3 linked regions of the Homo sapiens genome follow. The gene in region 1 interacts genetically with each later gene. Each region holds a gene or a part of one and is shown on either strand. Other genes may lie near its edges. The genes, in order: USP48, NF2 and NF1.

Region 1 (3,654 bases):
TACTGACATCTGGGGAAATGGCATGCCACCTCCCTGGGTTGACTTCCCAGGGGAATTAACACTGTACTTCTGACGGGGGTGTAGGGAGGAGGCAGGTCATGTGCTGTCAGCAGGAGACAGTTGATTGCTTCATTCTCTTTCAGATTTTAGAAAGAGAAGGGGAAGAAAATGAAGCCTTACATAAGATGATTGCAAACGAGCAAAAGACTTCTCTCCCAAATTTGTTCCAGGATAAAAACAGACCGTGTCTCAGTAACTGGCCAGAGGTATAATGATTCCCACAAAAGAAAGAATGCATCTTTTCTTTTTAAAGCCCTTGCCAAATTCCCAGTGAGCTATTTCAGAACAACCCAGAACTTCTCATATTCTCATTTGTTTAGTTATCTAACCAGGGGATTTACTCCAGCCTGCTATTTTTTGGTAGAGGACTGTGTTTTCATTTTATTTATAAAACTTGAATAAGGACAACCAAAGTATATTATAAGGAATTTGTGTTAAGCAGGCGGTGAATTGACGGATACTGTTTTGTGATTTTTGTGTTCTAGGATACGGATGTCCTCTACATCGTGTCTCAGTTCTTTGTAGAAGAGTGGCGGAAATTTGTTAGGTAGAAACAAAATATGTTTTATTTCCTTTATTGTTACTGATTTGGTTGACTCTGGTATTTTTTAAGATATCGTGGATTCTGTTTGTTGTACCCTTCCTTCATGGTTACTTTCACCAGCATACACTGAAAGCTTTCTTTTCTATTAATTAAATGAATAAGCCTAAGAAACACATTGAATTACTAATATTTTCTTAAATATATCTCTGATTTTGAAATAATTATTTTAAAATCTTCTCTTTCGTCATGCAGTAATTAGGTATATTTCTCCTCCTTGTCTCATTTGAGTAGAAAGCCTACAAGATGCAGCCCTGTGTCATCAGTTGGGAACAGTGCTCTTTTGTGTCCCCACGGGGGCCTCATGTTTACATTTGCTTCCATGACCAAAGAAGATTCTAAACTGTGAGTTCCTTCTCTTCATGTGATTTTTTTTTCTTCTTTTCTCTTTTTGATGATTAATAAAATATGTTTAGGAAATTTCTCATCTGACATAGTCTGTTTTAAGAATTTAGTCCTTTGCTGAATTGTGGGGTTTTTTTTTCCCCTTTTAAAAGAGAAGAAGACTGCTTCTCCAGGAAAGACAAGAGGCTGCCCGAGGCTATTTGTCTTTTTGCTCTTTCCTTGTCCCTCTTGAAGACAACACAGCCACCCTTTCTCTTCCCCCGCTGCTGGTGACCAGTGCTGAGACCTCTTTTCCAGAATCACAGAATCAACATGGTCTTGGTTATAGGTTTTGTTCTGCCATGGCCAGGCTTCAGACAATTAAAGGAGGAGGCTAGCAGGGTGGCAGAGCAAAGCCACTGCACTGGTCATCTGGAATTCTAGGGTCTTAGAACCCAAATTTTATTCCATGCTTCAAGTACTTCCAGAGGTGTTCATCTGTGAATTTCTCCCGATTTTACCAAAAATCGTGATATACGAGAAGGTAGAATGCTTCCAACATTGTCAGAAAATCAGGAAAAGGAAATTGGAACACATAAATAAAAATGCCCTTGGGGTTAAGCTAGAGTTTTATTATTCATATTTCAGTACTTTAACATCATTTAAGGGAGTTCAAAGTTTATATATTCTCTACATTTTCTCCCTCCTCTTTCTCTCCCTCCCTCTCTGCATCCCGCCTTCCCTGTTGCTCTCTCACTCTCGCTGTGCATCTCTCTTCTCTTTCCTCCCTCCCTTTCTTCCTGTCGTTGTTATTGCAAATGTCAGACTTCCAGGAAAATACACCAGTAAGCAAATGTGTGTTACCATTCAGTTTAAAAGTTAAATGGTTCAAATATGATTAAAGGCCCCACAGTGCTTATCCTTCTGTTGCTACTTCTCTTTCTCCCACCCTTCCTCTCACACTAACCACTGTACTGAATTTAGAGTTTATCTGTCTCAGAAAGTATTCTGTAAAAAAAAAAAATGCACGCACATAATGTCTTGCATATTTAAAACTTTTTATATAAATGGCACCATACTGTATTTATACTTCTGCAACTAACTTATTTTACTCAATTATGTTTTTGAGATCTAACCATGTTGATTCATGTAATTTCAGTCCATTTAGTTTCGCTGCTGTGGTAACATTCCTTTGTATGAAAAACTATTCTTTGTTGATGATACGTATCTTTTCTCTCTAATTCCTTTGGATTAAATGTTAGTGTTAATGGTTTTGGTTTAGCAGACTAATGGATTATGTTAATTCTCTTAATTTCCATGTGTCTTAAGGCATGTTGTGTTTTTTTTTTGCACAGTATAGCTCTCATATGGCCCAGTGAGTGGCAAATGATACAAAAGCTCTTTGTTGTGGATCATGTAATTAAAATCACGAGAATTGAAGTGGGAGATGTAAACCCTTCAGAAACACAGTATATTTCTGAGCCCAGTAAGTTTTCATATTGCTTTCGGTTTCTATAGTTAAGAGCTGACATTTTAAGAAGAAAGGGTGTGTCAGTGTTGTCTGCTTAAAGTTAAAGATCATGCGGCGGTCCCAACTCCCTAGGTGGAAACTCTCATTATAATCATCCCATTATTTGTACGTTTATTTATGGACAGTAAATGGATTTCCTTATCATTTGCATGTAATAGAATATAGTGGTTAATAGAAAATATTATTAAGAGTTTGGGCCAGCACACTAGCTCATACCTATAATCCTAATACTTTGAGAGACTAGGGTGGAAGGATTGCTTAAGGCCAGGAGTTTCAGACCAGCCTGAGCAACATAACAAGACCTTCTCTCTACAAAATAATAAAAATGTAGCACATATCTGTAGTCTTGAGCTACTCGCTGAGAGGCTGAGTCAGGAGCATGGCTTGAGCCCAGAAGCTTGAGGCTACAGTGAGCTATGTTCATACCACTGTACCCCAGCCTGGGTGACACAGCAAAACCTTGTCTCAAAAAAAGAAAATGTTACTAAGAGTTTAATGAATATTCACTAGTAACTTTGACATATGTTTTTAGATCTTTGATTCTTTAACAATGATTCCTCAGCCACTTCTGTTTTCCCTTTTTTTTTTTCCCCCAAAGAACTCTGTCCAGAATGCAGAGAAGGCTTATTGTGTCAGCAGCAGAGGGACCTGCGTGAATACACTCAAGCCACCATCTATGTCCATAAAGTTGTGGATAATAAAAAGGTACTGGTCCCTCTTGTGGCAATGACTAGTAATGATCAAGCGTGCTCTTTGGCTTGATTTGCTGTTGTATTTGCACTGAGGGTCTGCCTAGGACTGCATTTTTGTTCCTTCAGAGCTGTTTGGCATCAGAATTGAAATTGGACAATAATTGAAAATGAACAGTTATGTGATTATATGAGAATTTAGTTTGTTATTAATTGATGCATAGATATTTACTGAATGTCAGCTGTGTTCCAGGAATGGTCCAGGTGCTGGGGATACAGTGATAAAGAAGGCAGGTATAATACCTTCTCTCAAAATTATAGGCACCTAGTGAGGAAGATCAGGAATAAAGTATAAATTCATATGATTTCACACAGAAATGATTGTTTTGAAGGAACTTTAGCAGGGTCAAGTGGAGGTTAGTGTGAGACAGGGAGTAGACAGGAGAGGC
Region 2 (3,654 bases), on another chromosome or scaffold:
ACCGCTCCTCTCCAGGGTGCCGTGAGTGTACTGTTCCAATGTGAGTTCACTCTGACCACATCTCTGCTCAGCCTATGGAGAGGAAGCTGAAGCAGAGGTGGCTGAGCACAGATGAACAGACAGTCCACTCCCCGTGGACTCACATATCAGACCCTGTGCTCTGGGTTTGCTTTATTTGAAAAGAAAAGGGATGTGTGCAGAAAGGGAAAGCTCTAAAGGAAAATGAGCCAGCACAAGCAACCCTTTTGCCCCACTACCAGAAGCTGCCAGGTGTGACCATGGGTCTTGAGAGGCTGTCAACGCATAAAAGGTCTTGATCTTGAGTTAAACACACCAGTCTCCAAAGTGCCCAGATTGACCCCATTTCCATGCTAGGAGTATGCCACCAAGACAAAGGACTTTTAGACACACCTGACTGGACAAGAAGCCATAACCTTCCCCAGCCCAACAATGACCCGAGATGGGAAGAATGGCTGGTCCTACAGCCCCATGACATGCTCTTCGGAACGAGGCAGTCTTCTGGGGCCCTGGAGGCTGGTCTGGCTTCACAGGGTGGGTGCCTACTTTTAGACTCAAAGCATGCTGCGGCCAGTACCCAGGCACCACCTGCCCTCGTAAGGGCTCAGTGTGGCCCGAGGACAGAGACAGGCAAGCTCATGCACGGGTTAGTATCACAGAGGGCAGCACCATCACCACATAGAGAGTACCTGGGAACAACCTACTTTGAGGGCTCAAATGCAGATAGGTCTTCTGCCTTGGGCTTGAGGCTAAACCAGCAAAATAAAATGAAGAAAAACAAAAACATACCCTGTGATATCAACAATGCCATAAGTGCCATCTGCAAAATGCTTGGATAGGCCTGAAATCGTGATGAGTGATTTTGTTTGTTTTAATGGCTTGGAACGGGGTCTCTCCAGCTCTCACACTGCAGGTTTCTGTGGCTGAGGGCACTGCTCATTGCAGCAGCAGTGGAAATGGTGAGACTGTTCCTGGGACCCAGATGACAAGGCTGGGGGTAAGGGGTGAGATGGGGTGTCTGAGGCAGTTCATTTAAGGGCTGACTGGCTCACTGGCTCAGCCATCGTTTTACCTCTTTCCTTAATGACCGAGGCCTCCCTTGAACTCCCCTTTACTGTTTAATAATTTTGTTTTGGAAGGGAAGCCCAGTAAATTACAGAAGCCAGAGGAAAGAAGAATGTGGAATGTGGAAATGCCTTTCCTTCTAGGTTGCACTATTAAAAGGAATTCTCTACCCGGTGCCAGTTGTGACTGGAGTCGAGAGGTAGAAGTCAGGGCTGCCTACTGTACCCAACAACGAAGGCAGGCAGAAACAGATCCCCTGGAGTTTTCAGATACAGCTTAACCACTAAAAACAGAGACAGTCCATAAAACTGGAAGCCTATTTTAAAGACTGAGGTAAAGAATAAAAAATTAACTGTATCAGTATCACCTAAACTCAATGGACAGTCTTATCTTAATAACACCTATTTTATAGGTGTTAACCTGGTCCTGGGCTATCAGTTAAGAGCAGAGCATTATTTGGTATGAGAGGACCCTTCTGCTTGGCCCAAATGAGAGAGGTATGCTCTTGGGCTGATAATTAGTATGGAATTTAGCTTCTGAATCTCGACAATGCTGAAAGCTCAAAATACCAGTAGAGAAAGATATGAAACCATTTGCAAAGTAATAAAGTCTTCTCTTTTAAAACAAAGAGGTTCTTTCCTAGACACTTCCTTTTAAGTATGAAAAAAGTTAAAAATTCAGTTTGGTTTTATAGTCCTTGCCACTTAAAGACACCACAAGACTAGAGGGAAAGTCCATTCTCAATAGCCTCCATTTCATTCTGCTTTCTCATAAAGTAAGGCAGCTCCCTGGGTATAACACCCCTTGGCTTAAAAGGGCATTATGCTTTACTGCTAAATGAGGGCTCAAAATCCACCCTGTAACAGGGGTTCATTACATCAGAGCTTTTAACACAAGCTCAACTTCCATCCAGCCAATGGGTTCATAGTCATTGGCAGATTAAATTCCCTTTCTGGCATAAGTTAAAAAATTTCCTCAACTAAGTACATACAAAAGATGCCAATAGTCTAGTGACTTGGCTACTGAGGAAACCAGATGCCAACCGCACATTTCATTAATGATGGTCCTGATCAGCAAAATACAAGAAAGAGACCCTGGGTACCTTTTTAATGGTATTGTGCTTGCTGCTGCCACCCCTGTCGGAGTTCTCATTGTGCAGAATATCCAGAGCTGTCTCCCTCTCTTTCAGTTTCAAGGCCTCGATTTCTGTCTTGAGTTCATTGAGCTGCTCCTGCAGATGCTTGCTCTTTTCCATGTATTCCACTCTGCCGGCAAGAGGGTATCATGCATCAGGGCTTGGGCAGACAGTGAGACACGGCTCAGGTGCTCTGCGGCCCACAAGCTGCTTGGTGTGCGATCTAGGGTTTGAGGCCTGGGGTTCACGTCTCTACTTGGCCACTCACAGGCCATGGGAGCTTGGGCTGGTCACTTAAATGCTATGAATGTTTCCTCATCATTAAAATTGGGATAATGATCACAGGGCCGTGGTTAGGATTAAATAAAACAGTGTAGGAGGCCAGGCACGGTGGCTCCACCTGTAATCCCAGTACTTTGGGTGGCTGAGGCAGGAGGATTGCTTGAGCCCAGGAGTTGGAGACCAGCTTGGGAAACATAGCAAGACCCTGTCTCTATTTTTAAAAAAAAAAAAAGAAAAGGAAAGAAAAAGAAAGAGTAGAAAAGCCCTTGGTAAATTCTCATAGGGGGCTCTACAAATACCAGCTCTCATGGACAGCTTTTCGTTCTGTACAAAAAAAAAACATACGTGAAACAAGCTTCCTGGGAACCCAGAACAATCTCCTTGTCTCAACCCTTCTTGGAGCAGTAATTCAAGTAAACTCTTTTTTTTTTTTATAGGATCTTGCTATGCTGCCCAGGCTGGCTTTGAACCCCTGGTCTCAAAGGGCTGGGATTATAGGCATAAGCCACAGCGCCCAGCTTCACGTGATCTCTTTTGATAGGCCACATCCACATTCCCACTTGTTCTGAGACTTCATCTAAAGATGACAGAAGCTCACTCAGAAGCTCACCCAACGCAAGGAAGAAAAGATCCCCACCCTCACCTGAGAACAGATAACACTGAGTGACAGCATCTATGATGGTGAAAATCTGGAAACCACCCACAAAGTGTCCAACTACAAGGCATGGCCAGAAAAACCATGCAATACAAATACCAAAAACACTCCATAGGGATTGCCATGGTTAGTATAGAGACTCTGCCAATATGTGCAAGGGTAAGAAGTGCTATGGTCTGAATGTTCGTGTCTTCAAAATTCATATGTGGAAACCTAATCACCGGCTGGGTGTGGTGGCTCACGCCTGTAATCCCAACACTTTGGGAGGCCAAGGTGGGCGGATCATGAGGTCAGGAGTTCGAGACCAGCCTGACCAACATGGTGAAACCCCATCTCTACTAAAAATACAAAAGTTAGCTGGGCGTGATAGCATGCGCCTGTAATCCCAGCTACTCAGGAGGCTGAGGCAGGAGAATCGCTTGCACCCAGGAGGTGGAGGTTACAGTGAGCCGAGATCGCACCACTGCACTCCAGCCTGGGCGATGGAGTGAGACTCCAT
Region 3 (3,654 bases), on another chromosome or scaffold:
TTTTTTTTTAGAGATAGGGTTTTGCCATGTTGCCCAGGCTGGTCTTGAACTCCTGGCCTCAAGCAATCCGCCCGCCTCAGCCTCCCCAAGTGCTGGGATTACAAGCGTGAGCCACTGCACCCAGCTCTGTATTTTCAAATTACTATTTTATATTGATGCTACATTACTGTCTTAGAAAAGCATAGAGATACTTTGCAAGTGACTGAAGATAGTATTGATAGAGATTTAAAATTTTTGAATACCAATCTCTTAATCTCTGAAGGAGTCAAATGAATATACTCATCCTTTACTGGATATTTTATAATAAATTGTATTTACTGACAGGCCTGTAAATAAAATCTAGTATTTTTGAGGCCTCAGGTAAAATAGAATTTTCATATTGATTAGGCTGTTCCAATGAATATTTTTTAATTAAAAATTAAATTGGTAGAGTGATTAAAAACATGTTATTTTCCTTCTTCAACTAGATTACAGATCTGCTTGATGTTGTACTAGACAGTTTCATCAAAACCAGTGCAACAGGTGGCTTGGGATCAATAAAAGCTGAGGTGATGGCAGATACTGCTGTAGCTTTGGCTTCTGGAAATGTGAAATTGGTTTCAAGCAAGGTAATCACTTTTCTTTTGCCTTCTGTACTATAGCATATCTGTTTTATCATCAGGAGGTTTTTTGTTTTGTAATTACTTTTAAATTAAACTGAACTTTTTTGTGCTAAAACTTTGAGTCCCATGTTTTTTTTTTTAAAAAAAAAAATCCTGCTTCTTTACAGGTTATTGGAAGGATGTGCAAAATAATTGACAAGACATGCTTATCTCCAACTCCTACTTTAGAACAACATCTTATGTGGGATGATATTGCTATTTTAGCACGCTACATGCTGATGCTGTCCTTCAACAATTCCCTTGATGTGGCAGCTCATCTTCCCTACCTCTTCCACGTTGTTACTTTCTTAGTAGCCACAGGTCCGCTCTCCCTTAGAGCTTCCACACATGGACTGGTCATTAATATCATTCACTCTCTGTGTACTTGTTCACAGCTTCATTTTAGTGGTAAGTTCTAGGAAAGGAATTTGTGTTTACCAGTTCCTTTCTCCATTTTACTTCACCTGATCAATATAGATTATCTTATTTATGTTTGTGCTCTAACACCAAGTTGCTAATTTAAGCCTCCAGTAATGACATGAAATATTACCAAAAAGAAAATAAATTACTTCCATTCCATATCAAGCTATAGTAAAGATTTTCTATGCATACTTGTCATGTAGAGTTATCCCATAAGCGGAATACTCAGTGCCAGTTGACCATGTTCAGTTACCAGCACTAATTTGTAGATAAATGAAGCAAGGAGCATTAATACAATGTATCTAGAGGTTTGATTTAGGGAACATGATTATGTAATTTTTATATGGTATTCAAATTTTCTAAATTCAAAATGAAACATGGAACTTTAGAAATTAAAAAGTAATATTTTCTGTCTTTACTTGTTCCTTTATTCTCTTACAGAAGAGACCAAGCAAGTTTTGAGACTCAGTCTGACAGAGTTCTCATTACCCAAATTTTACTTGCTGTTTGGCATTAGCAAAGTCAAGTCAGCTGCTGTCATTGCCTTCCGTTCCAGTTACCGGGACAGGTCATTCTCTCCTGGCTCCTATGAGAGAGAGACTTTTGCTTTGACATCCTTGGAAACAGTCACAGAAGCTTTGTTGGAGATCATGGAGGTATAGAAGCCAAAATGATAAGAAACTAAGTTAAAATCTTTTTTTAAAAATATGTTAATACTATATAGAAGAAATATTGGTTTATTGTGCTATTTTGTACTTAATGCTTAAATAAAAACACTTGCATGGACTGTGTTATTGGTAACAGGTCACTTAATGACATCATAATAAACATTATTTAAACAGTTCTAAAAACATTTATGTACAATATGTATTCAGAGTATCCCCTTTTTTAGGCATGCATGAGAGATATTCCAACGTGCAAGTGGCTGGACCAGTGGACAGAACTAGCTCAAAGGTATGTCCTAAATTAAATATAAGTTGTAAAAATATGCATATTGTTGAAAATACAGCTATTACTGTATGATCAATGTTATAATTTATTATTTAGTATATATAAACACAAAGGTTTTTATAAGTTCTGTGGATCTTTTAATTGCAGATTTGCATTCCAATATAATCCATCCCTGCAACCAAGAGCTCTTGTTGTCTTTGGGTGTATTAGCAAACGAGTGTCTCATGGGCAGATAAAGCAGATAATCCGTATTCTTAGCAAGGTACCTGTTCCGCCCTCACTTCTCCCAAATATTTATGGTTCTCAAGTTGTAAAGCATATCTTTCATTTTTCTAAAAGACGTTTAAATTTGAGGTCAATGAAATATCTTATATGTTACTTATTAAGCCTTTAAAATGTATTTTGATTATTTATTGTAATTCTTTGAAGAAGTCTTCTCTAAAGAAGCTGTCTTTATATGTAAACTCTGATTACTTCATTAAGGAAGATGTCTTTAAAATAAAATATGTTGCCTCTTTTGCTAAGCAGGTACACTTAGTATTTTACCAGTTTTCAAAGCATTTAATTATATGGTAAGACTATAGCCTTGCATAAAATTATTTAATTTGTAATTACTATAATAATGTCTGACTCTTATAATGTAGAAATGTCAAAAAATAAGAAAACAAATGTACATTAAGCTAGCTACCAAGATCACCATAGCATGAGAAATCATTCTAGCATTTATTAAATAAGTAAATGTTCCTGAATTCATTCCGAGATTCAGTTTAGGAGTTAATGTTTTATTTCAATGAAAGTAAAATAAAAAATTCTGTTTTCCTAAAAGGCACTTGAGAGTTGCTTAAAAGGACCTGACACTTACAACAGTCAAGTTCTGATAGAAGCTACAGTAATAGCACTAACCAAATTACAGCCACTTCTTAATAAGGTAATTACTGTATAGAAAATGAGTGCATTCATTTTGGGTATCAGTGTTGAATGTTACTTTCTTTCAAAGAGTTTAGAAAATAAGATGAATTGAGAATAAGTTATAAAGAAAAAACTATAGTTAAAGTAGAACCTCTTAAAGTTTAGTTGTTTGAAGTAGTCATATTAGAAGAAGAGTAAGTATGGATAGTATGTTCTCAAGCGCTTGTAAGTTTTTGGTCTCATCAGTGCTAAAGGAAAGATAGGTATATATTCTTAATTATTTTATCTTATAACTATTAATTATCTGCTATTGCCAAGTACTGTTTTAGGCGCTAGAGATAGAGTACTAACAAAGCCCATAAAACTCACTGCCTTCATGGAGCTTACTTTCTGGGGTGGGTGTGGAGGTTGGGGAGTGAATGGATAATGAAGTAAACAAAATACGTAGTATGTTAGTGATTATTACTATGGAGAAATTAAAGCTGGGAGAAGTATACTTGATCGTCATAAGAGTTTGGGTGCCAAATGAAGATTATATTTAAAAGGAGTAAAATGAAGTGGCCACTGTTTTAGGATGGTCTGACCTTATCCCATTTTTATATTTAAGATATCTGGAAATCATGTTTTTGTATTAATAAAATGAAAAAGATTCGATAATGGCATGGTATTACCATCCAGTTCTAAAGTGGTTTAATTCTGTGATTTGAGTACAAAGGTATGCCAGACTTGGGAG

The links.
Region 2: changes in USP48 (region 1) and NF2 together harm fitness more than expected from each alone (negative genetic interaction), as found in Homo sapiens cells (one large-scale study listed by BioGRID).
Region 3: changes in USP48 (region 1) and NF1 together harm fitness more than expected from each alone (negative genetic interaction), as found in Homo sapiens cells (one large-scale study listed by BioGRID).

The regions. Positions count from the first base shown.
Region 1 is NC_000001.11:21,703,079-21,706,732, reverse strand, and holds part of USP48 (ubiquitin carboxyl-terminal hydrolase 48), read left to right. Parts: intron 1-143; coding exon 144-266; intron 267-545; coding exon 546-607; intron 608-895; coding exon 896-1,006; intron 1,007-2,340; coding exon 2,341-2,471; intron 2,472-3,114; coding exon 3,115-3,221; intron 3,222-3,654.
Region 2 is NC_000022.11:29,680,133-29,683,786, reverse strand, and holds part of NF2 (merlin), read right to left. Parts: intron 2,349-3,654; coding exon 2,186-2,348; intron 768-2,185; coding exon of another isoform or gene 732-767; exon of another isoform or gene 1-731. UniProt on the Homo sapiens protein: Probable regulator of the Hippo/SWH (Sav/Wts/Hpo) signaling pathway, a signaling pathway that plays a pivotal role in tumor suppression by restricting proliferation and promoting apoptosis.
Region 3 is NC_000017.11:31,335,866-31,339,519, forward strand, and holds part of NF1 (neurofibromin), read left to right. Parts: intron 1-467; coding exon 468-608; intron 609-769; coding exon 770-1,049; intron 1,050-1,502; coding exon 1,503-1,717; intron 1,718-1,953; coding exon 1,954-2,015; intron 2,016-2,159; coding exon 2,160-2,274; intron 2,275-2,838; coding exon 2,839-2,940; intron 2,941-3,654. UniProt on the Homo sapiens protein: Stimulates the GTPase activity of Ras. NF1 shows greater affinity for Ras GAP, but lower specific activity. May be a regulator of Ras activity.